7 linked regions of the Homo sapiens genome follow. The protein of the gene in region 2 purifies or fractionates together with the protein of the main gene of each other region. This does not show direct contact. Each region holds a gene or a part of one and is shown on either strand. Other genes may lie near its edges. The genes, in order: MYH2, SVIL, DSTN, MYCBP2, WDR47, PAXIP1 and MYO1G.

Evidence for each region.
Region 1: the proteins of SVIL (region 2) and MYH2 purify together in Homo sapiens (affinity purification with mass spectrometry, with the first as the bait; one study listed by BioGRID). This does not show direct contact.
Region 3: the proteins of SVIL (region 2) and DSTN purify together in Homo sapiens (affinity purification with mass spectrometry; one large-scale study listed by BioGRID and IntAct). This does not show direct contact.
Region 4: the proteins of SVIL (region 2) and MYCBP2 purify together in Homo sapiens (affinity purification with mass spectrometry; one large-scale study listed by BioGRID and IntAct). This does not show direct contact.
Region 5: the proteins of SVIL (region 2) and WDR47 purify together in Homo sapiens (affinity purification with mass spectrometry; one large-scale study listed by BioGRID and IntAct). This does not show direct contact.
Region 6: the proteins of SVIL (region 2) and PAXIP1 purify together in Homo sapiens (affinity purification with mass spectrometry; one large-scale study listed by BioGRID and IntAct). This does not show direct contact.
Region 7: the proteins of SVIL (region 2) and MYO1G purify together in Homo sapiens (affinity purification with mass spectrometry, with the first as the bait; one study listed by BioGRID). This does not show direct contact.

Annotation. Positions count from the first base shown.
Region 1 is NC_000017.11:10,519,845-10,523,506, reverse strand, and holds the end of MYH2 (myosin-2), read left to right. Parts: coding exon 1-11; intron 12-94; coding exon 95-199; intron 200-321; coding exon 322-417; intron 418-2,074; coding exon 2,075-2,227; 3' UTR 2,228-2,359; downstream 2,360-3,662. UniProt on the Homo sapiens protein: Myosins are actin-based motor molecules with ATPase activity essential for muscle contraction.
Region 2 is NC_000010.11:29,460,063-29,464,718, reverse strand, and holds part of SVIL (supervillin), read left to right. Parts: intron 1-1,083; coding exon 1,084-1,227; intron 1,228-2,317; coding exon 2,318-2,442; intron 2,443-4,656.
Region 3 is NC_000020.11:17,572,387-17,577,042, reverse strand, and holds part of DSTN (destrin), read right to left. Parts: intron 1-4,656. UniProt on the Homo sapiens protein: Actin-depolymerizing protein. Severs actin filaments (F-actin) and binds to actin monomers (G-actin). Acts in a pH-independent manner.
Region 4 is NC_000013.11:77,319,439-77,324,094, reverse strand, and holds part of MYCBP2 (E3 ubiquitin-protein ligase MYCBP2), read left to right. Parts: intron 1-4,656. UniProt on the Homo sapiens protein: Atypical E3 ubiquitin-protein ligase which specifically mediates ubiquitination of threonine and serine residues on target proteins, instead of ubiquitinating lysine residues.
Region 5 is NC_000001.11:108,969,086-108,973,436, reverse strand, and holds the end of WDR47 (WD repeat-containing protein 47), read left to right. Parts: intron 1-1,864; coding exon 1,865-2,007; 3' UTR 2,008-3,223; downstream 3,224-4,351.
Region 6 is NC_000007.14:154,975,625-154,980,280, reverse strand, and holds part of PAXIP1 (PAX-interacting protein 1), read left to right. Parts: intron 1-3,949; coding exon 3,950-4,585; intron 4,586-4,656.
Region 7 is NC_000007.14:44,968,190-44,972,845, reverse strand, and holds part of MYO1G (unconventional myosin-Ig), read left to right. Parts: intron 1-620; coding exon 621-731; intron 732-1,056; coding exon 1,057-1,173; intron 1,174-1,786; coding exon 1,787-2,011; intron 2,012-2,108; coding exon 2,109-2,254; intron 2,255-2,691; coding exon 2,692-2,806; intron 2,807-2,970; coding exon 2,971-3,141; intron 3,142-3,362; coding exon 3,363-3,433; intron 3,434-4,656. UniProt on the Homo sapiens protein: Unconventional myosin required during immune response for detection of rare antigen-presenting cells by regulating T-cell migration. Unconventional myosins are actin-based motor molecules with ATPase activity and serve in intracellular movements.

The sequences.
Region 1 (3,662 bases), on a different chromosome or scaffold from region 2:
TGGAGGCCAGGGTGGGTCTCCCAATATCTGTCTATTTCCATCTGCTTTCAGTGCCTTATTGGATCAAAGTTCTTAAGAGCCTACTTATTTGCAGGTACGGGAGCTGGAAGGAGAGGTTGAGAGTGAGCAAAAGCGTAATGCTGAGGCTGTCAAAGGTCTGCGCAAACATGAGAGGCGAGTGAAGGAACTCACTTACCAGGTACAGCCAGTAGTTTTTAGCGGCTAAGCACTGGTCGAAGTTTATGTGAAATACTCATATGCAATGATGCAATAGTCATGTGCTTTAGTAATTAAGGTCCTGGACTTTTTATAATCTTTCAGACGGAAGAAGATAGAAAGAATATTCTCAGGCTTCAAGATTTGGTAGATAAACTTCAGGCAAAAGTGAAATCTTATAAGAGACAAGCTGAGGAGGCTGTAAGTATTTTTAAGATTGAAGTCCTCAAATTAAGCTAATAAATAATTACTACTTCTTGTAGTGAACAAGCTGTTTGCTTTAAAGACTACTGCATGCATATTTAACATTTGTTTTTGTACAATAATTCTTGTGTATCATTTGTAATATCAGTAGCTTCATTTTAAAAGTAAACTTTCAATCCACCAAGAATCCTGAAAAAAATTAAAAGCAGAAATAATACAGGCCATATTCTCCGGCCACAGTATGACGGAGTTGTAAAGTGATGACAAAATATAAGCAAAAATTCTTGAGTACTTAAATATTAAAAAAACTAACTTTCTTAAATAACTCTTGGTTTAAAGTAAAAATAAAAACATAATTACTAAATAATTATTAATTATAAGTAAAATCACAAGGAAGATGCTACTTTTACAAACCTACAGAATGTAGTCAAAGCTGTGCTAGGAGGCTAATTCATTGCTTTAAATGCTTTCATTATGAACCAAAAGTAAAAATAAACAAACAGACAGTCCAATAAATAAATTATAAATAATAATAAAACAGTAGAAGTAAGAAGTACTGTTAAAAATAAAAGTAGAAATTGGTGAATTAGAGTATACTATTTTCTATTTGATAACTTCAGTAATATTTGTAACTTCTGGGGAATTAATAAAATAAATGTATTATAACTAGTTTCATCAAGGAAAATAAGAGAGAAAATATAAACAACATTAGAAATGAGAAAGGGAATAAGCTATATACATAGAGGATTATTTTTTAATATAAAACACATCTATCAATAAAGTTGAAACCCTGAAAAAAATTGATGATTTTTCTAGGAGGATATAAATTACTAAGTTGGCTGAATTACTTCTGGAAATGGACCCAAGTCCAGATAGGTCTTTCAAAATTTCAAGGAACAGATAATCCCCCAGCTATGTAGCTGTTCAAGAGCATGGGAAAAGATAGAAAGCTGTCCAGTTCATTTTAAGAAGCTCACATAACCCTCATACCAAAACCTGCCCAAGAGAGGACAGAGGGAGAAAAACTAAAGGCAATTTTACTCATAAAGACAGTTACAGCAAAGATAAATTACTAAGTAGTAAGTCTTACTTTATTAAAGGAATTGTCTTCCAGTGATTAAATAAGGTTAATTCTTACAATGTAAAGATTACCTAATATTAGGTTATCTGTCAATAGAATCATTACATCCAATGCAGGAGGAAAAAAGTAACCATTTTGAAATGTGCCAAAATGATACATGACAAAATCCAATATTTATTTCAATTTTTAAAAACTTAATAAGTTCATTCTTAATATGATAAAAAAAATCTAACTCAAGGGAAAATCATCATCTTATAGCAAGCATTAACAACTATGACTTTAATATTCTTGCCTTCCTCTCTAAGCTTATATTTTTCTTCTTATTCTACTTGTGGTACATATATTTTATGTGTTTTGGTTGCCAAAATAGGAATGTGAGATACGTATGTATGTATGTGTGTGTGTATATATATATATATATATATGACATCAATAAACAAATCTTAAAATTAATTTCAATGATAATCCCTAGATGTTGCTTCTCCATAGATGCCAAGTCCTTTCTTCTATTAGGTCTAAAGAGTCTAGAAAGATGCAAGTATGAGTTCCTTACAATTCCATTTTTATTCTCAGGAGGAACAATCCAACACCAATCTAGCTAAATTCCGCAAGCTCCAGCATGAGCTGGAGGAGGCCGAGGAACGGGCTGACATTGCTGAGTCCCAGGTGAACAAACTGCGGGTGAAGAGCCGGGAGGTTCACACAAAAGTCATAAGTGAAGAGTGATCATGTCCTGATGCCATGGAATGACTGAAGACAGGCACAAAATGTGACATCTTTGGTCATTTCCCTCTGTAATTATTGTGTATTCTACCCTGTTGCAAAGGAAATAAAGCATAGGGTAGTTTGCAAACAATATCCTTAGACTGGTCTTGTCTTTTCTCTTTCCTGAAGCCATGTCAAAGTTTGAATAGTCACCAGAGTTGTCAAACAATCACATTCAATTGGTGACTTTTTTGGGGGTCTACGGCAACACTTTAAGGCTGTAAAGATGTCACTTATCCAGAAAGACTGTTCTAATGAACAGAAATTTGGAAGTCTATTTTATTTCTTTCTAACCTTTCCTGATATCTGAGTACAGTAAAATCTTAGAAAGCTCCTGCTTCCCCTAACATGAACCTTTTTCAGGATAGTACTAGCTATATTCTCACATAGGGGATTCAAACTGAATTGTATCATTAATTCTCTTTGTTGAATAACTGTTATCAAGAATATAAATACAAAATATTCTTAATTAGCCCATGGATATTTACATTATCAATTCCAATGTACCATATGCCCACAGTAGGTGCACTGGGTAATGGGTTTGACACGACCTTGTTCTTCACGAAGCAAGTTTCAAAATTAAATTAAATATGACTCTTCTCCCTATGAAAACTACAGGGTGTCTATCAAATCTGGAGACATAGAGAATATTATTTTTACGTTATAATGTAGTATCCATGAGCTATTAGCTTATGTTTCCAATCTTTATGGTCTCCCAGATAATCATATAAAGAGCCAAAATAAATGACTAAAAGTGTCAAGAAAATATGATCTCAAAGTAGGTTATTCAAATCTATATTCAACACACATAATGATGGGTATGAGTTTGGTACAAAAAGTAGATATCATAGCAATCTGGACCACTCAGAGACGTTTTCCTAGAGGATCAAGATTTTTAAACTGGATGCAGCTGAGATGCATAGCCAAAAATATAACCTTCCTCGACAGAATAAAGGAAGAGCTAAATGGTAACTTCCCATCAAATAGAAAGCAAGAGTATCTTGGTCTAAATGGCACTGTGTGAAAATGATGTAAATTAGACATGGTAGTTTAACAGGTAAGTTGGATTCACACTGTCGCACTGGCCTTAGAAAGGGTGTGGAATTGCTCTTCTCGCTGCATAAGCCCCTCTTTCACTTTGTTCCTGTATCACGTGGAATTGCTTAAGTGCTTTATAACGTGGCAGTAATAAACAAAAACAATATCTTACTTCCTACTTATTGAAAAGTTTATCCAGAGCAAGACAAAAGGTTGTCTGAAGATTCCCATCAGATCCTATTGAGAGCATTATTAAAATGTTTTATCTTCCTGAAAATCATTACCCACATTTTGCAGGTGCCTAGTAAAGAAACAGACATGTAAGAAAGTAAAATTAGGTACCTGTGGTAACAAAGCA
Region 2 (4,656 bases):
TGCTTGGAAAATCAGCCACCAGTAAGAGAGGGTGTGCCCACGCCCTTCATCCTGGGGCTCAGGGCGGGTTATCAACCTCCACTGGGCTTTTAAAGTGTGGTTTTCACAGAATCCTGAAATGCATGTCAGGAAAGGACTTACAGTGAGCCGACTAGCAAGAGTGAGAGGCATTTTGCCACCTGGAGTAAGAGTCAGACTGACAATTTGAGGAGGAGAAAAAGGTAGGAGGAAAAGGCAGTAGAACAGTTTTGATTTTTATTTCCTTTTATTTTATTTTTTAGAGACAGGGTCTTACTCTGTCATCCAGGCTGGAGTGCAGTGGCGCAGTCATGGCTCACTGCAGCCTCTAACTCTTGGGCTCAAGCGATCCTCTCTCCTTAGCTTCCTGAGTAGTGGAGACTACATGCATGCAGCACCATGCCTCGCTAATTTTTTTTTTCTTTTTGTAGAGATAGGGTCTCATCATGTGGCCCAGGCTGGTCTTCAACCTCCGGGCTCAAGCAGTCCTTCCTCCTCAGCCTCCCAAAGCACTGGGATTACAGGCATGAGCCACCACTCCCGGTGGCAGTTTTGCTTTTTAAGGCCCATTTCTCTGTAAGAGAGCCATGAGCTCACCTCACTGCTAAGCAATCGCGTGCAGGGCAGGAACGCCACTGACCTGTCTGCAGTGAGATGTGCGCTCCAGTGTTGATTGTGCTCTTTGGAGATATGCGGTGCTAACAGCCCCTTGAGTGGCACATGCATTATCCCTTCCACTCTTAGCACAGCCCTGCCAGTATCCAGAAGGGCCAGGGCCTTGAGCTGGGGCAAAGGGAGGAGGACCTGGAGGACGAGGAATGAAAAAGACCAACTCCTTGACACCACTTCTCTCTGCCTACAGGCTTCTCCCCGTTGAACTGTCAAAGGGCTGGGGTATCCTGGGTTTCTCTGTTTGCCCCTTTGCCCCTGGTTTGATGGCCAAGGGGGTTTCCCCCTGTGACACTGCAGTCAAGAGGGACAACATCCACTAGGTTGGGGGAGGAGTGAGCTAGAAGTGTCCGTGAAGGAGCTCCTGATGGTCTGGCCCTGTCCCTGCCCTCACAGCACTTTTCCTTGTTGACAATCACCACGAGGTGTACCTCTGGCAAGGCTGGTGGCCCATCGAGAACAAGATCACTGGTTCCGCCCGCATCCGCTGGGCCTCCGACCGGAAGAGTGCGATGGAGACTGTGCTCCAGTACTGCAAAGGTGAGGCTCCCTCTAACATGCCTGCAGCACGGAACAGATGGGGAAGCCCCTCAGGCATGCGCAGCCAGGAGACCCCCTTCCCCTTCTGTGCATGTCAGCCAGCATCCATCCATAAAGCCTGGCAGGTGGTGATGAAACCAATTTTTTCCCCTTTAACTTTTTGAGATGTATTAAGTTTTAGATTAGCGCATTCTCAGCTGCCAGCATGAAGAAGAACTAGTTTTTCTCTCTGATATTATGAGGCTAACTTGTTACCCTCAAGGATAAAGGCTGTATTGTGGAATGCCCCAGGCAGATTAAAACCCCGCTGTACTCGGGGTTGATCATGCTGAGAGACAAGTTGGCCTCTGCCCTGTACATTATCTGCAAGCACTACCACGCTGTTGGAGAATGGAGGTCTCCCCCAAACAGTGAACGGCCATTGCCAACCTTTTTATTATTCATTATTATTTTTAGTATTATATCCAAAGAGAAATACCCATAGTAAGTTCATGGTTCTTTACTATACACATGAAATTTCTAGTCTTTTATATAAAATGAAAATGCCAGTAATTAATCTTATTTAATTTTTATGGTTTCATTGACACAACTAGTTTAATGTCACTGAGTATGTGCAATGGATTCTCTTCCTGAAAAACTCTTTAGCAATAAATAACATATGAAACCTTCCACTCAATGTTATAGTGAATGTGGATGTATAAGATGCTGTCGTTCGCCGTCAGTCATTATGGGAGTTAATCCTGTGCTAGGAAATGAGACGGATGACTCTACAGGTGAATTCAGGAGGAAGAAAATGCTCCACCCAGAAGCTGCAGACAGAGCCTCTCTCTCCCTTCCAGGAATACACAGCGTTTTGTTAGGTTCAAGAAGTATAGACTCAGGTTGATTATAGGTCACTATGGTAGTCACAGGCATGAAACTAACAAACATCTTATATAAACATTATCCATGTGTTGTTATGAACTACTGGTAACTTGCATTTTAAGCATGAAGTCATGAGTTCTGGCAAAGAAGAAAAGATTTCAAGGGAAATCAGAGAAAGACAGGGTCTCCCTGGGGTCTACTGACATTGCAATCTGTGTAACTACAGGAAAAAATCTCAAGAAACCAGCCCCCAAGTCTTACCTTATCCACGCTGGTCTGGAGCCCCTGACATTCACCAATATGTTTCCCAGCTGGGAGCACAGAGAGGACATCGCTGAGATCACAGAGATGGTGAGCACGCTTTCCTGCCCTATGAAGGTGGCTCCTGCGCCTTTTGGATTGTGGGTTAACTTTACTTTGGGGAGAGCATCCAATTGCACTTTCAGAGTGGGAAAATATTTTTCCTTTTGCAACATCTTAACAAACCTACATAGAATTTGCTTAGGAAGAAGAGAAGTCTAATGGAAAATCAATTAACTATTTTAGTAATTTTCTACACGATACCCAAATTTTAAAAACTTAAAAGCAAAGGTGAGTTGAATCATGTTGAGGACTATATATGTACATAAAAGCTGCGAACTCTTCATTCTGTTTGCTAAGAACCTGTTGCTTGGCATTGCTTGTCTCTCAGTGTCCATGTGACGCACAACCAAACCCTCATGTTTCAGATGTTAACCTTGTGTAGAGGAGACACAAACGAAATCTGATGAATTAGTATGTTCAGAAAACTGAATGAATGGAGGTGCTGCGACTCCCTTATGATAAGGGATCACTCAACATCTCATTAATATTGTCTTTTATGAGACCACCTGGTATTTCTGCATGAGGCATTTATCATAACTTCTATCCACCAAAATATATTATAATCTAGAATGTTTTCTTTTCCAACCACACAGGAAAGAATTTTATTATAGCTATGTTGAATTTCTTATATATGAGCTATTAACATTGCTAGGAATAGCAAATCCAAGGATTTGTTTTGATTTGGTGAGAGATAGGTTTTTTACCATTTTGATTTTTTTTTACCATGTGAGAGCTGCTTTGCTTGGGGAAACGACCCAAGTGTATTTTATAGGAAATTCGAGTAATTTTAAACAAACAGAATCTACTTCTGCTTAGCAATGGAGAGGGCCTGTTGGGTAGTACAGACATCACTGCTCACCCTAACCTGTCTCCCTGGAGCCAAATGGACTTGATGTACACAGGGAAGGGGCTGACTTCAGCTTGGTGTCTGCCGCAGCCGGAACGAGATGTTTCTGTTCACTGCAACTGTGGTTTCGTGAAACCAGAAGGCTCTAGGGATTACGAGCTCTATGGCTGCTGCATGCAGTCTAAGTTCAGGAGTTACCAAATTGCCAGGGGTTCAGTCCAGGGCTTATTGCTCACTACACAGAAGAAAGCCAATCACTGAGACAAGCATAGCCAAGGAAGAAAGTTTATTTGGGTGCTACAGCCAAGGGGAACAGGACATAAGTCTCAAATCTGTGTCTCTGGCCTACTAAAATTAGGGATTTTTATAGCAGGGAAGAAATGTAACCATGTGTGGGAAACAGGAATTAGGGAGGGGTGAGGAAGAGGAGCTGGTCAACAGGAAGCGGGGGGTTGGTTAGGCATCATGGTGGGTAAGGGGTCTGGTAAGCTTCAGGTTTTGTTTTTGTTTTTTGAGACAGGGTCTTGCTCTGTTGCCCAGGCTGGAGTGCAGTGGTGTAATCACAGCTCACTGCAGCCTCCAGCTCCAGGCTCAGACAATCCTCCCACATCAGCCTCCCAGGTAGCTGGGACTACAAGCACACACCATAATGCCTGGCTAATTTGTTTTGTATTTTCAATGAGGTTTTGCCATGTCTCTCAGTCTGGTCTTGAACTCCTGAGCTCAAGCCATCTGCCCACCTCAGCCTCTCAAAGTGCTGGGATTACAAGCATGAGCCACTGCTGGCTTTTTGATACTATTGGAGATGCCTGATGGTTGGTTTCCTGAGAAAGGAACTCAGATAAGACAAATATAACTTTCTCGAATTTCAAGACTAGGAGAGTTAATTTCGACGTTTATTCCAAAGAAATCATAAACATCAGTTCTGTGGCACAGTTGAGCCACTTTCAGAAGGATATAACTCACCATCCTCCCTGTGTATTCACTATAGATCTTGGGGGTTAGCAGCGGGGCCATTTACTGTTGTGCAGGCCTGTGGGATTCCAGCCGGAGAAGAGTCAGGCTTCCCACACCAGCAAGTTATACAAATAATTAACATTCAGCAAGTGCCCACTCTGCACTAGGCACATCTCCAAGCACTTTACACTGATTTTCTCATTTATCACAACAGTCCATCAAGATATCTTATTATTATTCCCATTTTACTGGTGTGGGAGCAGAGACACAAAAACACGAAGTCACTTGGCCAAAGTGACTTTCAGTGAGTGGAGGAGTCAGTACTCAGACGCAGGCAAGATCATCCAAAATTCGCCTCTTCTTTTTTTAGAGAAAGGATCTTGCTTTGTCACCCAGGC
Region 3 (4,656 bases), on a different chromosome or scaffold from region 2:
GTGAAAGTTTTGTCTGCATTTTGACTTGTCGCATGAGGTGAGATGTAGAATTTTCCATATGTTGGTGTTCAAAAAGTTTGGGATTTTAGAGAATTTTGGATTTTTAGATTAGGGATGCTCCACCTGTACATGAAAATAGCAACAGAAAAGTTGTGAAACCATTTTAAAATAAACACTAATTACATTTACAAGCTATTTTCTGAAAGCAAGCCAAGATAGAAACAAGGGTAGGAAATTCATCCTTGCTTTCCTGTGAGAAGGCAAACAGAAATAACAACCTATGAAGTAATGTAAAAATGTTCAAAGGAGTAAACAATCTTCCTTTGATGTGATCCAAAAGCACAAACACAATGACAAATGACCTTCCAGGTGTAGAATGAACTTAAGTTTCTATCTTTCAAGCACTCATCTATGCCGTGCTGCAACAGACGTTCTCAGTCTTTTCACACCTTCAATTAGAGATTACTTTGTTAATTTTAAAACTTTAATTGCATTTTTTACTGAAATCAATTGCTTTTAAAAAATCTACGTATGATGTGAGGGCGATCTGGCTGCAACATCTGTCACCCCATTGATCACCAGGGTTGATTCGGCTGATCTGGCTGGCTAGGCAGGTGTCCCCTTCCTCCCTCACCACTCCATGTGCATCCCTCTCAAAGCTATGCACTCGGTCAAAGAGGATGACCATTCCTGATAGAGGAGAACCGGTCTTTGGTCAAGGTTATATGAGCAGCTGCGCTCCCCTGCTAGAACCTCCAAACAAAAAATCTACGTAAAACATAACAAAGCAAAACATGGAATAGTGTTGGCAGCATGTAAGTATTACAGTATCAGCTTCTAGAAGACTAATCTTGGAGCTAAGAATCACTCTAAATATTCAACTCAATGGGGGTCTTAGTACAGCAGATTCAATGATGAATATAACATTTTGGCCCAAAGTATTACTGAGATGAATAAAACCGATGTTTATTTGTCTAAGTCTATGCCTCTCCCAATTGTAAAATTTCAAGAAAAATGAGCAGGAGGTAATTCAGAAGCACAATTCCAAGTGAAAACTTCTCACTTCCAACATCAATGAAAGGAGGCATGAACAGAAGAAAAGTTGTGGTTACAATATTGCTGAAGTGTTAGGTGTAAATCTTTGTGTATGACTTTCATGGACAATCTAGACAGAAATGTTATGCCACAAGAGAAGTAAACTCAAGATACTTTCACGGCTGGGCGCAGTGGCTCATGCCTGTAATCCCAGCACTTTGAGAGGCCAAAGTGGGTGGATCACTTGAGCCCAGGAGTTCAAGACCAGCCTGTGCAAACATGGTGAAACCCCATCTTTATAAACCCCGTCTTTATATATAAATTTATATTTATAAATCCCATCTTTATATATGTAAAGCTTTTAAAATACAAAGCTTAGCTGGGAGTGGTTGTGCCTGCCTATATATAGTCCCAGCTACTCAGGAGGCTGAGGTAGAGGACTGACTGAGCCTGAGGGTGGACGATGCAGTGAGTTGTGTTCACGCCCCTGCACTCCAGCCTAGGTTAACAGAATGAGACCCTGTCTCCAAAAAAAAAAAAAAATGCTTTCACAATATTCTACTTATTTATTATGCTCTGTGGTTTACATATGCAAATGACAGTACAACAAAGAGACTAGCTCTAGTTACTCAGAGACTAGAGTGTTGTTCTGTGGACAAAATCAACGCATTTGTATGTTAAATTCAGTTTTTCAAGACTTGCAAGTTTTTTTTCAAATTTCAAATGTAGTGTGCTTCATCTCAAATATTACTGAAAGAAAATATAAAGTTACATTAACATAAAAACTCAAAAATTTGAAGTCTTCCTGTATACTAAGTTAAACACAATTTTGATTTAAACAAATTCTATTTATGAAAAATAGTCACTAGGCACAATGGCTCATGCCTGTAATCCCAACACTTTGGGAGGCCAAAGCGGGAAGATTGTTTGAGACCAGTCTGGGCAATGTAGCAAAATCTCATTTCTACAAAAAATTTTAAAAAGTTAGCTGGGTGTGGTGGTGCACATCTGTAGTCCCAGCTACTCCGCAGGCTGAGGTGGGAGGATCATTTGAGCCCAGGAGATCAAGGCTGCAGTTGAGCTCCAGCCTGGGTGGCTGCAAGAGAGTCTGTCTCAAAAAAAAAAAAAAAAAAAAAACAAAAGAAAAGAAAAGAAAAAGAAAAGAAAGAAAAAAGAAAGGAAAAAAAGGAAAGGAAAGGAGAAAGAAAAGAAAGTCAGTCATGTTTACTTGTTTTGCATGTTTGTTTTTTAGACTTTTAATTTTTTTTTTTTTTTTTTTTTTGAGACTGAGTCTCGCTCTGTCACCCAGGCTGGAGTGCAATGGTGCGATCTTAGCTCACTACAACCTCCGCCTCCTGGGTTTAAGCGATTCTCCTGCCTCAGCCTCCTGAGTAGCTGGGATTACAGGCACGTGCCACCACGCCCAGCTATAGACTTTTAATTTTTTAGAGAAGTTTTAGGTACACAGCAAATTTTAGCAGAAGTGCATTGTTCCCATATATCTACTGTGTGTGCTTTTACATTTTGGCTAGAAGAACTGCCAGGAAAGAGAGGGGTAAGTGTAAAGTGAAGGACATTAATCTCCACAGCCCTTGGCAAAGAAGGAAAGAACTCTGTCCTAAGTCACTCTACATTCTACCACTACCAGGGGCCTAAAAATGGCAGGTGGATAGAATTAACAGAGAGTATTGAACTTCTGGTAATTAGCTGGCTAAGGGGCCTGGAAAGAAATTTATGTGCCAGAAAAGAGAAATATTACTCCTCAGTATGAGGTTCTGGTATTGATAATCATGTTCTTGTTTTTTGAGACAGGGTCTCCCGCTGTGGCCAGGCTGGAGTGCAGTAGTACAATCATAGCTCACAGAAGCCTCTAACACCCAGGCTCAAGCAATACTCCCACCTCAGTCCCCCAAATAGCTAGGAGTATAGGCACATGCCAGCATGCCCAGTTAATTTTTATTTAATTTTTTTGTTCAGACAAGGTCTCACTATATTGTCCAGGCTGGTCTCCAACTCCTGGCTTCAAGCAATCCTCCTGCCTCAACCTCCCAACGTGCTGGGATGACAGGTATAGGCCACTGTATCCAGCTGATTTTTTTTTTTTTTTTTTTACTGCTACATTTACTTTATGGCTCTGCAAATAAGCTTAGGTGAAGATGGTAAGTATTTACAGAATGGCCAGGTTTGCAGGATGCAGCATGCGTGTAAAAACCTAAGATGCAATAAACATATGAAAAGAGTCAGCTCACTAGTAATCAAAGAAATGCAAAATAAAATAATGAGAAACCATTTCACAACCATCAGACTGGCAAAGGTTTCAAGTCTCTTATTAAGTGGTGAAAGGCAATGTAGAAACAAGCTGTTAATGATGAGATACAACCAGAACGAACCAGTAGTAGAGTAGAAAATATGTATGCTCCAATCCAGGGCTTCCGCTTCTAGATATACACCATGGAGAGATACACACTGGGGCTAGAGAAGTAATATATAGCAATATATGACATGGAAATTGCCTATTATAAAAACTTTAAATAGACCAAAAAAAGGCAAAAAATTAGGAAATGGCTGAATGTCTATCAACAGGGGAATGGATAAACTTGCACAATCATACAAAAGAACACAATTCAGCAGTTGAAGAACCAAAGCTACAAATAAATCCAAAAGCTGCCCTCCCCTGGGAAAAAAAAAACCACCCCCACAAAGTTTAATTTTTTCTCACAGAGCTGCAAAAGGATACATGAAGCACAGTATTTACGTAAGTTTTAAAAGCACATCAAGGCAATACATATGAATGATTAAGTAGCTAAAAGTATGGAACTATCAATGAATATCAATTTCAGGTGACTACTGTGAACTTTACCTGAGCTCTGTGTTCTCAGAAAGCAGTGATGGTTAATCCACCCCACCGTTTTGTGTTCTGGGAAACAGGTAACTGCAAAGAACTGGCCTGTTGCATATTTTCAAATAAGGCAATCAGGAATGCTCTCCTAATTGCAATAGCCTGAATAAAATCATCTCCTTAACCAGCCAGGATATTATGTCTTTGACACAGGAATGGTTATAACTCTAGGGAGGGAAGGGAGTGGGATGAGGAAGATGATGCATATTTAGCTGTAATGATAACATAAAAACCTGAAATATGGCAATAAGATAGCCCTGTTTTTCCTGTACAAAAGGATCTGTTATTCTGTGTACTTTTCTGCTTAAAATGTTTCAAAATTATTATTTTAAAACTTGGAGTTGGAAAAGGTGATTTGTCTCAAGTCAATTAATCCTTTACAATCTGTTTTCTCATATGTTAAATAGGCATGTGAATACATGCCCAACCTATTTCACTGGGTTGTAGTGTTTTTGCTAATCACCAAGTATTAGAATACTTGAATACTGCGCCAATTAGTTCAGTCTGTGAGACCACAGTCCAGATTAGGATAAGGTTAAGGGTTAGATTATCGTGCAAACCTTTTAACTCTACTTCAGGGGCAAGACTACACTCTTACTTTCCAAGAAGCATAAAAGATACTCTGGTTACAAGAGGAGCTAGGCAAGTCTAGGTGTGATGTCTCAATCCATATCCAGTAGAACTACTGAGCAAATAACCTTAGTAACTTGATGATGGGCTAC
Region 4 (4,656 bases), on a different chromosome or scaffold from region 2:
TTTTGGTAACTCAAGGGGATTTCAAAGTTGAGGGAAGGATATTCAAGTATAGGAGGTTGGGTGGGATATGCAAATATGGGAGGCTAAATGGAGAGACAGAGTGAAGAAGTGAGAGAGGGGATAATTGATAGGAAAAGGTCAAAGGGATCTCAGGGACAGGAAGAGGTCAAAGGGATCTCAGGGATAGAGTTAAGGTGACAGGTGGAGAGGTTAGCCATTGAAAAAAGGAGCAGTTAATATAGAAGGGGTGGAGGTGAGTACTTGTAAATATAAAGACTGGGAGTTTATTGAGGATAGGCATCATATCCTATTCGTTTTGATAATCCCAATGTCTAGCACATTTTTTGGCATGAATTCTGTAAACATCAAGTGCCTGCTCTGTGCCAGGCAGTATTGCAGATGCTGAAGATGTAGCGGTGAGCAAGATAGACAAAGTCTCTGCCGTCTTGGAAAATCCACTCCAATGGGAGAAATAGACAACTCATAATTTCACTTAGTAATAAGTAACTGTGAAGGCAATAAAACCTATTTCATGTGATAGGGCAATTTGTAGTGGGGCTATTTTAGGTAACATGGTCAGGAAATGTCTCTTTGAGAGTTGGCATTTAAATTGAATTGCCATGATGAGGAGGCAGATGTAGAGGAAGAATGTTCTGGGAATTTATAAAGGCCTTGAAATGGGAACAGGCTTGTGTTCAAGAAACAAAAACATGATGAGTGAGTTATCAGTCAATGTCAAATGAATTAATTACTCTTTGCTTTAGGTGTACAGTTGAGAAGTTGAGAGTTTCAAACCTAATGGACTCAGTGACTTTGATGACAGTCTAACAAAGTGGTTAAGAGCTTGGGCACAGAAGCTAGACTGGTTTTGCATCCTGGTTTTGTCATTTGCTAGCTGTGTAACTTTGAGTATATTACATAACTTCTATGCCTCAGTTTTTTAAATATGTAGAATGGGGATCATAATACTAACATGAATTGTTTTGTAGATTAAATGAATCAATGTATGTGCTTGGCATGTTGACTGCTATGAAATATTAGTTACTGTTTTTTGTCTGTTTGTTTTTGCTGAGAATGAGGGGTGTGGGGACTTGAAGAGAAGGCAAGGATCATGTCTTACTCTTTTATTTTTGGTCTCAGTGACTGTGTAGAATGTGGGAATAACTCTTTCATTTATCCAGTGACTGAATAGATATATTTTTGGATGAATGAGGCCAATCAAAATCGGAACATTCTGTTGGGGAAAGGGGTTGGACAGGAAATGTATGAAGGAATGTATGATCTGTTCTGAATGTGAATGGTGGTATAACCATGCACTTGGGAGGCACCATAGCACAGTGGCTAAATGTTAGAGCACTGGAGGTAGACTCCCTTAGTTCACGTCTACCTTTTTCTACTTGTGTTAAATTGGGCAAGTTAATTAGACTTTGTCTGTTTCTTTACTTGTAACTTTGTAGTGTTATCAAAAGGACATTATGTCCGCACCTGGTAAGTGCCCATGAAATGTTACCTGTTGTTATTATTAAAATCACATTTAAAATTCCAACCAGCATGGCACTGTATGTTTTTCCACACAAAATAGAAATGGAGAAAACCTAGTTGAGTTGATTTAGGGTTAAAGAAAAAAGAAATGGAAGGTTTTGGGGACAGTGTTTGACTATATGGTAAAAAGGAAAGTGATGCCAAGAGGGAACTGATAGACTGGAAGATAAAGAGGAGTCAGAGTATCTGGGTCCTGAAGTCCTAGAAGAACAATGTTAGTGAAAACAATAGAGGGGATTGTGACCAAAATGGGGAATCTAAACTTAACCCCCTTAGTTTTTTCAGCTGCTTTATCTCTTTCTTGTTAGAAATGGTATTTGAGTCCATCCTTCAGATGCATGGGATTTTGGTTGTAAGAGGTTAAGTAGTCATTTTAGCAAAAGTTCAGGGATTATTTTATTTTACTTATTTTGAGGCAGGCTGGAGTGCAATGGTGTGAACATAGCTCACTGCAGCCTCAACCTCTTGGGCTCAAGTGATCTTCCTGCCTCAGTCTCCTCCAGTAGCTGGGACTACAGGCATGCACCACCATGCCTGGCTTGTTTTTTATTTTTTGTAGACACAGGGTCTCACCATGTTGTCCAGGCTGGTCTTGAACTCCTGAGCTTAAGTGATCCTCCCACCTCCACCTCCCAAAGTGCTGGGATTATGGGTGTGAGCCACCATGCTCAGCTTGCTCAGGGATTATTACTTGGCACTAACCATTGGCCCTATAAAAATTTATAAGACACAAATTCTAGACTTGAGTTTACTGTCTATCTGGAAGTGCAAGATACAAAGGCAGATACTTATAGAAGTGTTAAATGAAATGACCAAGAAAGTATAACCTACTATGACAAAGGCATGGCATTCTAGGCTGGCTTAAAAGCATCAGCAGAGACAGGAAAGCACAGTTTGTATGTAGGTAACAGTAGGAATTCTGTTAGAGCTAGAATGCAGGTGTCATGAAGGACAGTAGTGGAATTCATTCTGGAAATGGAGGCTTTGGCTAGGATGGGGCATCTTGAAGACCAAGGTAAGAATTAGATTTTATTCAGTAGACACTGATCACCCTTGATGGTTTTAAGCTATGAAGAGACGTTATTTATTGTAGGAATATGTCAGGAAGTAATGCGGGATTGAATCTGTATGTGTACATCTGTATTTGTGCATAGGTAGTAATTTTCTTCATGTAGCTGTTATATCAGTGGAATCCTGTATAGTGTATAAACACAAGTTAAGGCAAAAACTGCTCTATTGGTATACTGGTAGGTAGAAATGTGAAATGAATTAGTTTCCTAACTCAAGAGAAGAAAAAAATCTTGCCTCTGGGCTTAAAAGGAAAATAAAAATGTCAATCTAAAAATACTTTTGTCCTTTAATATATTTGTTTAAAAAATCAACAGAATAGTCTCACTTTTTTCTCAAAAACCAGATTAAACATTTAGGTTTTCTGAGGAGGGGTTAGGTTAATTGAGGTTTAATTTATATACAATAAAATTCATCCTCTTTAAATGTTCATTTGAAGAGTCCTGAAACTATCACCACAGTCAAGTATAGACTGTTTCCATCACTTCATATAAAAAGTTCTGTCAGGCCCTCCTACCCCTGGTTACTGACCGCTGCAAATCAGTTTTCTGTCACTAATATTTTACCTTTTCTAGAATGTCATATAAATCTAGCTCCTTAAGGGCAGGGCCCCCAGGTATTGTTCATCTTTCTGTCTTGTATCTGTATTTCCTGTAAGTGGAAGCTAGACCTTAAGGGTTTATTAGGTGTTCATTAGAAAATTTTTTAGCAAGAATATTGTATATGGCGCTGGGTACTGCATGTTGCATCCCATCCAGAGGTTGTGAGGTTGTCTCACTATTTAATATGTTAAATCTGATTACTTGGGTAAGACGGTACCTACTAGATTTCATCTCTGTAAATGTATGCTTTTTCCATTTGTAAAGAACAAGTAATCACAGGGTAAAAATTTGAGCACATTGTGAATGCCTTTTACCTAATGCTTTTAGCATTCTTTGATAATCCTTGTCTGAGTCAATAATTTCATTAGGGGTTGCAAAATGATGAATTAAAAAATAATTCTGTTATTTCTTCTATGTTTATTAGCTGGTACTCTTCTGCAAAGAAGAGTTGGCCTTCACTGACTGTCAGTGAAATGTAGTTTCTCCTAATCCAGCAGCATAAATGCTTAATTCTCTTCCCTCATTAGCCAAATTGGTGTAATAGTCCAGTGGTGGTGTGGCAGGTGCTGTGGTTAGGCTTTCAGATCCCGCTTTCAGGCACATGTTCCCCTAGCTCTTGGCAATATTGGCAGCTAAAACTGATTGCAGCTGAGTCCCACTCCACGCATTGCCCTGAGCCAAGAGTTGCCTCCCCCAGAGTCATGCCTCCTCTTCAGGGGCAGTTTACATCTAATATCTATACAGTGTAGGGATATAAATGCCTAGCGCTTTTGCTATAAGACAAGCCAACCTTGAAGTCTATCCCAACACCAGAGAGCTCTCCCATGGGTCTGGCTGAGGGCTTCCTGGGACTGCATTGCAGATCAACTCCTTCCTCTGTTCAGTCTTACGTCTTTCACTGCCCCACAGTTGTTGGTTCGGAGGGCACTCCGCAATAAACTTCCGGTGTGCACATCTGCATTTGAGAGTCTGTTTCCTGGGAACCCTCCTACCCAAAGCAGTTGGTGCCAGGAGTGGTCTCAGAAAGTAGACTTTACAGTGAGGTTTTGAAGCTGGATTATTGGCTGGCTGGCTGGCAATGAGAATCGATTCTGGTGCTAGATGGAGCACTAATACTGATAACGCTTGGCATGCACTGTAGCTATGCAACTTAAAACTTTCACTGGTGGTGAGTTGGAATGCTATTCCTGTTGAAGGGAATGCACTGGTGAGTGCACTAGGCTTTTGAGAAGTTCAGAGAAATTAATTATGAGGACAATCATCAGATGGCTTTTGGTAAATAACATTGATAGATTGGAGAAAGATGATGCAAGGTGGAAGATAATTGGGGGCAAAATGTAAAAGGAAATTTATTTAGCATCATGTAAAGAAACACATATACAGTAAGAGGAAAAATCTAAGGCTTCAACCCAAAACTTAATTTTAAGGGTAGCAGAGCACCAAG
Region 5 (4,351 bases), on a different chromosome or scaffold from region 2:
AGTTAATTCCCTCCCTGATGGAGCTTATATTTTAGAGGTCAATAAAAAGTAAACCAATAAACAATGTAATTTTAGGTATTTGTGCTGTTTAAAAAATTAGTATGGTAGGGAGATAGTGACTAGGGTGAATAGGGGAAGGCTATTTATTTATTTATTTTGAGACAGAGTCTTGTTCTGTTGCCCAGGCTGGAGTGCAGTGGTGCATCTTGGCTCACTGCAGGGGGAAGGCTATTTTAAATAGGATAATTGGAGTAGGTCTCTCCAAGGAAATGCCATTTGCATAGAGACCAGAATGATGAGGAGGAACAAGCCAGGCCAGGATATTAGGAGAAGAGCACAGCAAGTATAAAGATGCTGAAGTAGGAACCAGCTTAGCACGTTCATGACACTACAGGAAGCCAATGTGCCTGGAACTTAGTGAACTAAGAGAGAGAGACACAGAAGAATAAATCAGAGGCAGGGTTTTATAGACTTTTTTTTTTTTTTTTTCTGAGACAGAGTCTCGCTCTGTCGCCCAGGCTGGAGCGCAGTGGTGCAATGTCGGCTCACTGCAAGCTCCACCTCCCAGTTCATGCCATTCTCCTGCCTCAGCCTCCCAAGTAGCTGGAACTACAGGCGCCCGCCACCACACCTGGCTAATTTTTTGTATTTTTAGTAGAGACAGAGTTTCACCATGTTAGCCTTGATCTTGATGGTCTTGATCTCCTGACCTCGTGATCTGCCTGCCTTGGCCTCCCAAAGTGCTGGGATTACAGGCGTGAGCCACCGCGCCCGGCCTATAGACATTTTTTTTAAGGGCTTTATTTTTAATAGCAGTTATAGGTTAACAGCAAAATTGAGAGATACGGAGATTTCCCATATACTCCTGACTCACACATGCATAGCCTGCCTCCCCCATTATCAGTATCCCCTTCCACAGTGGTACATTTATTATAGTTGGTGGGCTATAAGCATTTTAAAAAGTATAATGTGAAGCCTTTGGAAGATTTTAACTGGAAGGGATAGGAGCTGAATTATATTTTTGGAGAATTTGGGGTTCTGTAGGGAGAGTAGATTGTAAGGGGGCAAGAGTAGAAATATAAATGTCAGTGAGGAGGCTGTTGGAATAGTTCAGGTGAGATGATGGTGGCTTGGACTAGGGTGGTGGAGGTGGAGGTAGTAAGAAATGACTAAATTTGAGATATATTTTGTTTGGATCAGCTTTGAGGAGTGAGGGGAAAAGGAATCAATGACGATTCCTAGGTTTTTGTCATGAGCAACCAGATGGTGCCATTGAGATAAGGGAGGCAGGTAAGGGGAGGAACAGGTTTAGGCAAGAAAACCAAGAGTTTGGTTTTAGACAAGTTTAAATTAGGATGACTATCAGACAAGTGAGATATTGAATGACTATTTGGATACTAGTCTGGAGCTCAGATGAGAACCAAGATTGGAGATAAAATATGTATGAATTGTAAATATATAAATGGCCATGTTGCTAGATGAAATTTTTTAGGAAGTTAGGTACAGAGAGAACAGAAGAAATCTGAGGGTTGACTCCTGGGATTCACCAAGCTTTACGTCAAGAAGAAAAGGGAAACTAGCAAAAGATGAAGTGGCACTGAAATCAGGGAGAAATCAAGTTGAGAGAATTTCCGAGAGAGAGAGAGAGGCAACTTGTCAAATGTTGCTGTATGGGTATATGTTAGCAAATACTAATAGCATAATTAGGTAGGTAGTAATTTATCCCTGTATAAACCTTTCAATGTATTATATTAATGTAGTTTAAGATTTTTTATACTGTAATGTCTTAAAGTAACAGGAAGTCTATACAATCTATACATATACTTATTTTGCATTGTAAATCAACATCTCTTTTGTAATTTAGGGGACCTCACCAAGCAGCTTCCTATCATGGTGGTGGGGGAGCACAAGGACAAAGTGATTCAGTGCAGATGGCACACCCAGGATCTTTCCTTCCTGTCATCCTCTGCAGATAGAACTGTCACCCTCTGGACTTACAATGGGTAGAGCACACCGCATGTCAGTCTATGCAGCAAAAGCACAGAGACTTAAGACTACTGAGTTGTGAAAATTACAAATCTGAAGAACATAGTGTCCAGGAAAGTGGTTTAGCACGAAGAGGCCCCTTATTACCATGTATCCCACTGATAGGAGGTGTTGGGTGGTGTTATTCCGCAGTGCTTTCAGTCTTCCATGTGAGCTCGTGCTGCTGTGACCTGCTATATGTAGTCTCGTTGCCAAAGTCTGCAGAAGAGCTCTTCAGTTGTTGGTGTGCACTCCAAGTCAGGATGGACAATGTGTTTACGGTTTAGTATTCAATGCATTCCTTGGTCTTTGCCTAAATAACAGTTTTATATGCACATTGAAATGGAATTATACTTCAACTATATTATTAAATGTAATGCAACCAAGTTCCTCCCAGATTAAACTTCCCAGGTGTTCAGAATTACTTTTGCTCTTCTCACGATCCCATATTGTATTATCACTTGTCTTCTAGAGGTCAGAATTCCATAATATATGTCACTCAAAAGTTACATGGTTGCTTTCACTTAAGGATCATTGTGGAGTTTAAAGATGAATGAAAAACTGCTTCTTAGTTTACTACATGGTATAGGCCCTTTTTTCTTAAACCCAGGGATATGATTATTTTGTCATATAATTTTGTTTCAGGCTAAAAGGTAAATGTGTTTGCTTCAGAAACTTGTTAACTTCAGTTTTTTGAATGCAACAGGATACCTCCCTTCCAAACTGAACTGTAGAAGCAGAGCAGCAGCAGTTATGTGATGCAACACTTGATGGTACAGTAAATTTACTGGCATTTTTCTCCTTAAAAATTAAAATCCTTGACATAGACCATAGCATGGCTTGAAATGCTATGTCTGCATGATAATTTAAAATGGAAGATTTAAACTTTGCACTCCAAAAGCTTATTTGGATTTTTTTCTTGCACTGTTTTGTGTAATGCAGAATAATGATTTTATTTCTACAGCTTTGTAGATTCTAACATTTATGTATCTTTATTTTCATATTGTACAGTAATTTTACTTTAAATTATTTAAATAGGCTATTTTATTTATTTCAAATGCAGTTGTATTAGTTCTCATTATTGAACTGTCTGTGCACTGTATGTAGCAAGCATTTTTCATCTGTTGTATACAAGTGGAAAGGGTATTAGAAGTGTAACTGTGCTATTATTTCAATAAAGACCTCTTGACATTTAAAACTGTTTCTGTTCCTCAGTCTTTGGCTTTCAAAATAATGTTATTTTTTCAGTTTACTGGGAGAAAGTGAGGTCCAGTGGATGAAGTCCATAATCAGTTTCTTAGATTTCTTTCTAAAGTTCTTCTACTAATTTGCTTTTTAATCCTTGGCAACTGTATAACTTATTAACAAAAAAATAATTTTTCTAAAAATGGGGTCTTGCTTTGTCCAGGTTGGTCTTGAACTCTTGGCCTCAAGTGATTCTCCTGAGTCAACCTCCTGAAGTGTTGGGATTATGGGCGTGAGCCATTGTGCCTGGCCTGTATAACTTTTGTGTGTCTTCTGTCTCTTTTATCCAAGATTTAGAGAACTTTCTATCCTTAATATGTTGTGAAAGTTGACTAATAAAAGCCTAACAATATGTATAAATTTGAACTCAAGAGTATGAATATGTCGAATTAGGTAATCACCCAACAGGTTCACCATGCCCTCTGCCTAGATAGAGCCAATTTATTCAAGACAAGGGAATTGCAATAGAGAAAGAGTTATTCATGCAGAGCCAGCTGTGCAGAAGACTGGAGTTTTATCACTCAAATCACTCTCCCTGAGCATTCCAGGATCAGAGTTTTTAAGGATAATTTGGTGGGTGGGGTTCACTCCTAGTAAATTGGGAGTGCTGATGGGTTGGGTTGGAGATGAAATCATAGGGAGTCAAATCTGTCTTGAGTCAGTTCCTGGGTGGGGGCCACAAGATGAGCCAGTTTACTGATATGGCAGATGTCAGCTGATCCATCAAGTGCAGGGTCTGGGAAATATCTCAATCTCTGATCTTAGGTTTTACAATAATGATGTTATCCCCAGGAGCAATATGGGGAGGGTCAGAATCTTGTAGCCTCCAGCTCTATGACTCCTAAACTGTAATTTCTAATCTTGTGGCTAATTTGTTAGTCCTACAAAGGAGGCAATCTAGTCCCCAGGCAAGAAGGGGGTTTGTTTTGGGAAAGAGCTATTACTTTTTTTCTTTTTTTTGAGACAAGAGTCTCGCTCTGTCGCCCAGACTGGAGTGTAGTGGTGCGATCTCAGGCTCACTGCAACCTCCACCTCCAGCAATTCTCCCGCCTCAGCCTCCCAAGTAGCTGGGATTACAGGT
Region 6 (4,656 bases), on a different chromosome or scaffold from region 2:
CAGTTTCCAATAAAATTCAATTAAAAAAAAAACTGACTAACTTGTAAATTTTTGAATAAGCTAGAAATAATTCCTTTTATTTTTATTTTTATTTTTCTGGAAAATTAAGTACATACCTCCAGATATTTTTTAATATGACTGATGGTACGTTACCAGAATGTTTGTAGGGTAATTCCTCGACTATGCAGCATTGTCTTGATCATTCTAGGACTTAGCATTCCCTCAACCATTTCCTTCCAGCCAGCTTTTGTGACAAATACAATAGGCTCTCACAAATTTCCAAAATTTCGGGGAGTGGTAACAGCTCTTCTTTAGTGTCACTGCGTTAGTTTCAGCCAAGATCACAGGATCAGAAATTGACAGTTGGACTTCATGCTCATGTCTGTCTGTTGTCTTTAAGGCAATAGTGTTTCATTCCTGTTGGATCCTGGTAGGCCATGCACCCTTCTATGGCGTGGTGTTCCCTGCCTCACCTCGCCTCTTCCCTGGTTCTTTCTAACTCACCCCTTGAAGGCTGAGAAGCACCAGTCTATAAAATGAACTGAAGGAACCATATATTCTGGCATAGTCTATTTATAAAACCAAAATGGTTATATTAATTATATTAATTATTATTTACATTATAATTAACATAATATAATTATGTTCTTGATTCACGATTATGTTATGTTTGTGGCTTATGTAACTCAATAACCACAAATATTTGAAAAATTAAATCCCTTTAAAAAGACTTAATTTTTATCATTCCTTTAAATTATTGTATTTTATAATCTATTCAGACATAAATTTGTAAACCTAATAGTGGTGAATTTAAATAGTTTCTTCTAATTTGTAAGTTTTATGAGTGCTAGAGACCAGCTGACTGTACACAAAAATAACATTTCTTTTTAAAGTAAATGTTTTTGTTTTCTTTAATGAGCACATAGCAAAAGCTTGTGCAAATGGCCTAATAAAACTACCTTTTATACTCTTGAAGTTTAAAAGTTTCAAATTAAGAAGAATGAAAGAATTTATAACTTAAAACCAACAGAAACGGGGTATGGTTATTAGTTGTTGGGGAGAGGGGACATGGTTGACCCTTGAGGTCCTTAGCCCTTAGTGAGTTAGAAGTTTTGAGGATACAAAATTTAGAATAATTTAGCTGATAAATTGGGTCAGGCAAAGGCATCTAAACATTGCTTTCCTCTTAAATCATCTTTGTTTAAACAGTTACTGTCTTTCAGTGATTAAAAACTACCTATCTTGTGAAAAGCGAGAGAAAACTTGAGTGAAATATAGTAAGGCTGTTTACCTAAGTGTTTTACTTAGATTTCCACAGGAAATAGTCAAGTTATTTCTGAAATGTGAAATGCCAGCATTCTATACAAACTAGGAACTCAAGAGCCTACTGGATCCCAGCCTTTTAAGTGTGAAATTATCTTTTTCATATCCAAAATTTTCAGTGACTCCTCTTCATGGCAGTAGTTTTGTTTTGTTTTTTGGTATTTGTTAAAACAATTAAAAATAACTTTTTTTCATATTTTACTATTTCAACAGATATCTTTTTAACTTGGAAAAATCATATGTAAACCATATTACATATAGTCATATGTTATTCAAGCAGATGATATTTTTGTATTAATTGGTTCATAAATATTCTGCTGTGTACCTGGACTTCATATTTTCCTAAAATAACTTGGGTTTTTCTGGAATGGGTAGTCCAGAAATTGAAAATCTCTAGTAGAAATTTATCATCTGGGGAGAGCTATATAACATTTTATGCTTTTAAATATTTAAGAACAGCATGATTTTTTAGGGTAAAGAATAAGACATTTTATTGTCGAGGGTATAGGTAAATTGATGTACTCTTACATAGCTGTTGGAAGTGTAATTGGAATAGCCTTTTTGGGAAGGGAAGTGTAGTTAGAGATATGAAGCCTTAAATCTATTCCTTTTCAAACCTCAACACCAAAACCTAGGAATTTGTCATAAAATATAACTGCAGTTTTTCATAGTAGTGAAACACTGGAAACAACCACGTGGCTAACACTGGGGGATGAACTAAGGTACACAGCTGTGCAACCGAAGAGGAAACTGTAAAAGCCTTTGAGACTACTGGGGAGATCTGAATAGGGCCTGAGGATGAGGTGAATCATAGTTCATTGTGCTGCTATGATAATTATGGTGGTTTAGAAAGTCTTTATCAATTTGAGATCCGTAAACAAAGTTCAGGAGAAGCAAGATTTGTAAAAGATTGCCAGTTATTAAAGCTGGGTGACAGATACAAGGGATTTATTCCACTAGTCTCTAATTTGGTCTGCGTTCGAAAATGTACATTAAAAAGTTTGGTCTGCGTTCGAAAATGTACATTAAAAAGTTTGGTCTGTGTTCGAAAATGTACATTAAAAAGTTAAAAACAAAAGCATAAAAGTATACATGTTTTCATAGGAAGAGGTTGTTCACAATATATTAAGTGAAAAAGGAACATTATAAAGTATTTGTTCACTATGACTATATGTTTTTTCCCTTTGCCCTTTTAATATATGTACATATATATTTATAACAAAAATAAATTTAAACTATACCCTAAAAATGTTAATCGTGGTCCTTTCTAGTCAGTGTGATTATGATTACATTCATTTTCCTTTGCTTAGCTTCTTATTCATGGGTGTCTCCCATGACTAGGTTTTTCTTATATTTTAAAAAGGTTTGAGAAAGAACAAACTCACAAACACAAGTTAAGTCACTGAGCTGTGTGCAGAGCTCACTATTTGCAAGGATCTCCCAGATGGGCAATGCCTGGCGTTCGCTGCCAGGACCGAATGACCAACAGCTGTCCTCTCTGTGCTGCTGCCCCGCATCCCTATTGCGTGTGACTCTTATTCCACCCAGAAATTGCAAATGCCACCTTGGGGCTCTGCAACAGGACACGGAGTTTAGTTTAGGGCCCTGATTATGTGTTTGCTAGAGAATTGCTGTTATGTGTTAAGCTTTTAGGAGCACAGCCAAATTTACAACTCATTTATTTTAAGGTTACTTTATTGTCATATTACTCTTATTTAACATTTTTTATTTATTTCCTCTTTCTTTGTTATTCCCTCCCCTGTGCCTTCCACATTCTACACCCTTTACCACAGGAGAGGTCTCTGTTAGCTTGCCGAACATACTACTCCGGACACATCTTTTCCAGTGGGCTGTATTTTCTGCTTTCATTCTAACTGTGCAAATTGTCATCATTTGTGCCCCAGCCAAAGCTCACCTTTCAACGGGGCTTTCCTCCTGCCCTCCAGCTTATGTTGATGAGATTCCCTTCCAGTCTGTTACTGCATCATTCAGCAGTGGTTTTATATTGTATTTGCATTCCGTATTTAATATCTCTTTAGAACCAAATTGTGAGCCTTGTTAGGTCAGAGACTTGTTGCATCCTTTGTGTCTCCATCCCTTAGTGCTGCTTGGCATATAGCATGAGCTCCATAAATACTGGATCTTGAATAGAGCTGTCCTATGCAAGTCAGCCAAGTCAGCCATGCTCCATGAGTGTACGTGATGCATTGGCGGCACTCTGCCACGCTGTTACTTTACTAACTGTCATGGAAAACCAAGCTTCTAAATATTATCAATCAGTAAAAACTTAGGTAGCAATTATTCATTTCATAATTTTCCATAGGATTACTAGCTCTACTTTTGTACTTAAAATATCATTTTAAAAAGTTAATTTTCAGCCAAGTCTTTTAAGACTCCTGCTACAGGTGTGAGACCTTCCTATGATCACTGCTGTATGGTTCCTTTTCACTTTTGCCTCATGTCCTCTGTCTAAAAGATCAAACGTTGCTTCTGTATAAAATTGTAATAATAGTTGCTCAACATTTCAACTGCATTCCTTGACTGAGTTTTTTCTAAAATGCGTAATTGTAGGAAATGTGATAAAATTTACAGCTTTGTTTTGTGTGTGTTTCTGCTTTCCTCGTAGGAGAAATACGAATGTGCTTTAAAGCGAGCAAGTATTAAAATTGTGACTCCTGACTGGGTTCTGGATTGCGTATCAGAGAAAACCAAAAAGGACGAAGCATTTTATCATCCTCGTCTGATTATTTATGAAGAGGAAGAAGAGGAAGAGGAAGAGGAGGAGGAAGTAGAAAATGAGGAACAAGATTCTCAGAATGAGGGTAGTACAGATGAGAAGTCAAGCCCTGCCAGCTCTCAAGAAGGGTCTCCTTCAGGTGACCAGCAGTTTTCACCTAAATCCAACACTGAAAAATCTAAAGGGGAATTAATGTTTGATGATTCTTCAGATTCATCACCGGAAAAACAGGAGAGAAATTTAAACTGGACCCCGGCCGAAGTCCCACAGTTAGCTGCAGCAAAACGCAGGCTGCCTCAGGGAAAGGAGCCTGGGTTGATTAACTTGTGTGCCAATGTCCCACCCGTCCCAGGTAACATTTTGCCCCCTGAGGTCCGGGGTAATTTAATGGCTGCTGGACAAAACCTCCAAAGTTCTGAAAGATCAGAAATGATAGCTACCTGGAGTCCAGCTGTACGGACACTGAGGAATATTACTAATAATGCTGACATTCAGCAGATGAACCGGCCATCAAATGTAGCACATGTAAGTCACTCTTTCCGAAAAAAATGTCAGTATTGGATCTTAGAATTGGATTTCACAGTCTATTTCAATGT
Region 7 (4,656 bases), on a different chromosome or scaffold from region 2:
TGTCTCCATGGACTCTGAGCTCCCTGCTGAGGTGGGAGTTCATGTGGCACCAGTTGTGTCTCCACAGACGCTGAGCTCCCTAGGACATGGGCTCTCCCTGGGTGGAGAGCAATGTCTCCACGGAACCTGTGCTCCCTACTGAGGTGGGAGCTTCCTGGGACAGGGGCAGGGTCTCCAGTAACTCTGAGCTCCCACTGAAGTGGAGCTCCCTAGGATTCTGCAGTTTGTCCACAAACTCTTACCTCCTCACTCAGTGGGAGGTTTTGGGACCCGGGTAGTGTCTCCACATACTCTGAGCTACCCACTGAGGTGGGATCCCCCTGGGTCGAGGGCAATGTCTCCACAGGGACTGAGCTCCCTACCAAGATGAGGTCTGGCACAAGAACAGTGACTTCATGGTGGAGTCATAGCTCCCACTGAAGTGGAGCTCCCTGACCCACTGAACAGCTGAATGGGGAGCTTGCTGGCACACAGAAACTGTTCACACTGTCTGACCTTCCCCCACGTTTGTTCGTTCAATACTGGAAGGAAGCGCAAGTCTGTTTGTTCTCCTGCCTGTGTGTGTGTACAGGGGGACATCCTGGGAGCTTATTTGTCTAAAGGATGCCTGTGTCCTCTAGTTGCTGAGAGGCAGTGAGGACAAGCAGCTGCATGAACTGCACTTGGAGAGAAACCCTGCTGTATACAATTTCACACACCAGGGAGCAGGACTCAACATGACTGTGCACAGTGTGAGTGTGAGGGGCACCAAGGGCTCAAACTGGGCTCAGTGTCAGGGCCTGAGTGTGGTGGTAGGGAATGGGCAGCACTCAGCACAGGCCAGGGTGAAGTGAACTGTTTGCGTGAGTGGGGAGGGTGCTCGGGGTGGAGTGAAAATGGCTGATGGAGGGGACAGAGTGCAGGGGTGAGCAGGTGCTTAGGCTGGAGTAATCAGGTTCAGGAAGGGGACAGGGGACAGGGGTGAGCAGGTGCCTAGGATGGAGGAATCAAGCCTCAAGGGAGACAGGTGTCCTGGGCCCAGTGTGGCTTTGGAGTGATGAATCCCTTCTACCCTAGGCCTTGGACAGTGATGAGCAGAGCCACCAGGCAGTGACCGAGGCCATGAGGGTCATCGGCTTCAGTCCTGAAGAGGTGGAGTCTGTGCATCGCATCCTGGCTGCCATATTGCACCTGGTGAGCCTGGCTCAGAAGCCTGGGAGGGCTACTTCCCCACAAGGGTTTCCTGGCTGGGAAGCACCCAGGGATGAGGAGGAGACTGGCTGGAGATGCCCCAGCAATGTGCTAGGCTGACTGCCTCTCCTGCAGAAGCTGAGCTGCTCGAGTGATGAGCTCAGTTGATACATGGTCCAGACCCCATTCTTAGGGCCAGGTCAGCCAGGCGCAGTAAAAGCTGAGCATCATGCAGACTGCCTCTTAGTGCAGTCATGAGCTGTGTGGCTTTGGTTGCATTTACTCAGTGCCTCTTGGCCTCAGTTCTCTCTAAGCGGCATGAGGAGTAAGTAGTGCAGGGCTCCGCTGGCTGTGGGAGGATGCGATGGGGTCATTCACATGTCATTTGGACTCGAGGCCTCGAGGCCTTGGCAGAGACTCTGGTGTGCCCATGCCCCCTTCCCCCAGTCTCTGGCTGTGTCTGTGCCCATGGTGAGCAGCTGACCATGCTGGTCTGAGAAGGAGCTGTACTCTACCGCATCCATGTCCCCTGCTTTCCTTCCTCCTTCTTGTCCAAAGTTGTCCAGGCTCTTTTGAGACATGGAGCCCGGACTGTTCATGGTTTTCCCATCACCAGGGAAACATCGAGTTTGTGGAGACGGAGGAGGGTGGGCTGCAGAAGGAGGGCCTGGCAGTGGCCGAGGAGGCACTGGTGGACCATGTGGCTGAGCTGACGGCCACACCCCGGGACCTCGTGCTCCGCTCCCTGCTGGCTCGCACAGTTGCCTCGGGAGGCAGGGAACTCATAGAGAAGGGCCACACTGCAGCTGAGGCCAGCTATGCCCGGGATGCCTGTGCCAAGGTACTTTGGGGGCAGGCACAGGGAGGGAAGCCCAGGAGGCCTTCATGGGGGAGGCCAGGCCAGAGGCAGCAGGAAGCAGGGTGTTCCTATCCCCCAGGCAGTGTACCAGCGGCTGTTTGAGTGGGTGGTGAACAGGATCAACAGTGTCATGGAACCCCGGGGCCGGGATCCTCGGCGTGATGGCAAGGACACAGTCATTGGCGTGCTGGACATCTATGGCTTCGAGGTGTTTCCCGTCAACAGGTGGGTGGCTGGCCAGCCACATCTCCACCTCTGACACCCAGCAGCTTTGCCCACTTAGTTCTGGAAAGCTCGGCTGGGGCTGGGCAGCAGGAATGTTGGGGTTTCTCCCGGCTGGTCCCTGGGCCCAAGGCTCATGCCTCCCAAACCTGCCTCACCTGCACCCTCTGACCATTGATGTCCTGATGGAAGGCAGAATTACGGGGCATGAGTAATTCCTGGTTGTGACTCCCAAGTCCACTCCAGAACGTGCATGCAGGAGGTGTGGGTGGGGTAAAGGAGTCCAGGGCAGGGATGCATAAGCCACAGGGAAGCCACACAGGGTGCTGGCACCAGAACCCTCAATGAACATTAGCAGAGATGTTCAGGGGAGCAGCCACCCATTACCATGCACTCCACAAGCAGCGACCTCCCCTCTGAAAGGCCCACCCCACCCCCAGTTTCGAGCAGTTCTGCATCAACTACTGCAACGAGAAGCTGCAGCAGCTATTCATCCAGCTCATCCTGAAGCAGGAACAGGAAGAGTACGAGCGCGAGGGCATCACCTGGCAGAGCGTGAGCACTGTGGCCTGGAGGGAGGCCAGGCAGTGGGGTGTGGAGGGGCCTCAGCCCATGGGGAGGGGCCCGGGCTGGCCTGACAGGTGGCTGAGTGTGGGGCGGAGGAGGGGAGGTGGCCTGAAAGACCTTGGGAGCTTCCTTGCTGGCTGCCTTTGCCCCAGGTTGAGTATTTCAACAACGCCACCATTGTGGATCTGGTGGAGCGGCCCCACCGTGGCATCCTGGCCGTGCTGGACGAGGCCTGCAGCTCTGCTGGCACCATCACTGACCGAATCTTCCTGCAGACCCTGGACATGCACCACCGCCATCACCTACACTACACCAGCCGCCAGGTGCCCCCGGCTGTCCCAGTGCCACCACAGTGGGCTGGTGGGACCTGCCCCACAGGCACCATGCTGCCCATGCCTCGTGGGGCCTGGTTGGGGACCCAGCTTTGGTGCCATTGTCGTCACTGTGGCAACCTTCTCTGCCCTGGAGGTGGGGAGGCAGGGCTATCCCTTCATACAGACCCTCCACATACCTTTTGTGCCTTGACCTCAGCCTGTCCCCATAGCTCTGCCCCACAGACAAGACCATGGAGTTTGGCCGAGACTTCCGGATCAAGCACTATGCAGGGGACGTCACGTAAGGGCCCCCTCCCACCCACATCCCTGGCTTTCCCACAGGCACCATGGCATGTGTCATGGGGCAGGAGCGCTTCAGGGGAGTGGCTCGGAGACAGGTGTTATGGCCACTTCTGCCACCCCCACCCCTTTAAGACACTGAAACATGCCGGACAGCAGATTCACAAGTGAAGAGCAGGAAACAGGGTTTGAGGATAGTGGTTAACCATGGCTGCATTCTTCTGGGAGCCTTTAAAAAATACCCACGTCTCATGTCTGGGCCCAACCCTATACCAGCATCTGTGGGGTGGGGGGCTTCAGGCTGGTGATGTGGGGGTGGGGAGGGAGTGGAAGGTGCAGGGGGGCCAAGATTCTGCATTTCTAACAAGCTCCCAGGTGAGGCCTCGCTACCATACTTGGACCACGCTCCCAGTGCCAAAGCCCAGGTGTCTTCAGGGGTTGTCATGATGGCTATTAACTTATGTGTTGCTTGCCGCATCCCAAAACGATTTAAGGTGACTCACATCAAGGTATAAGTGTTTCATGAGAACTTCTCAAGGAGAGGGAATAGAATAGATGATGACAACAAAGCAGCCCAATATCATCTACCTTTATCTGTTCGCAAAATCTACACCCATGAGGTCGCTCATGCCTGTAACCCCAGCACTTTGGGAGGCCAAAGTGGGTGGATCACCTGAGGCCAAGAGTTCGAGACCAGCCTGGCCAACATGGCAAAACCTCATCTGTACTAAAAATATAAAAATTATCCGGGCACGATGACGCGTGCCTGTAATGCCAGTTGCTCGGGAGGCTGAGGCACAAGAACTGCTTGAACCTGGGAGGTAGAGGTTGTGGCGAACTGAGATCGCACCACTGCACTCCAGCCTGGGCAAGAGAGTGAGACTATTTCTCAAAAAAAAAAAAAAAAAATCCATTCCCTGAGCCTTCATAGGTGCTGCAGTTGGAGCCAAGATTTGGCACTGACCTTTCTAGCAGTCCAAGAACTAGACAGTGATTCTGAGGCTCTCAGTGCCCACAGATCAAAATAGGCCCAGGACTCAGGAGTTCCTAGTCATAGTTGTAGTCGCTGATGTTTATCAAAATTCAGTAGGCACTGTTCTGAGCAACTGATGTACACTGAAGCACAGAGAGGTTGAGTGGCTTAGGCAAAGTCACACAGCATGCATGTGGTAGAAGCAGGACTCGGTGCTAGGACATTTGGCTTCAGAGCTGGGGGCTTAACCA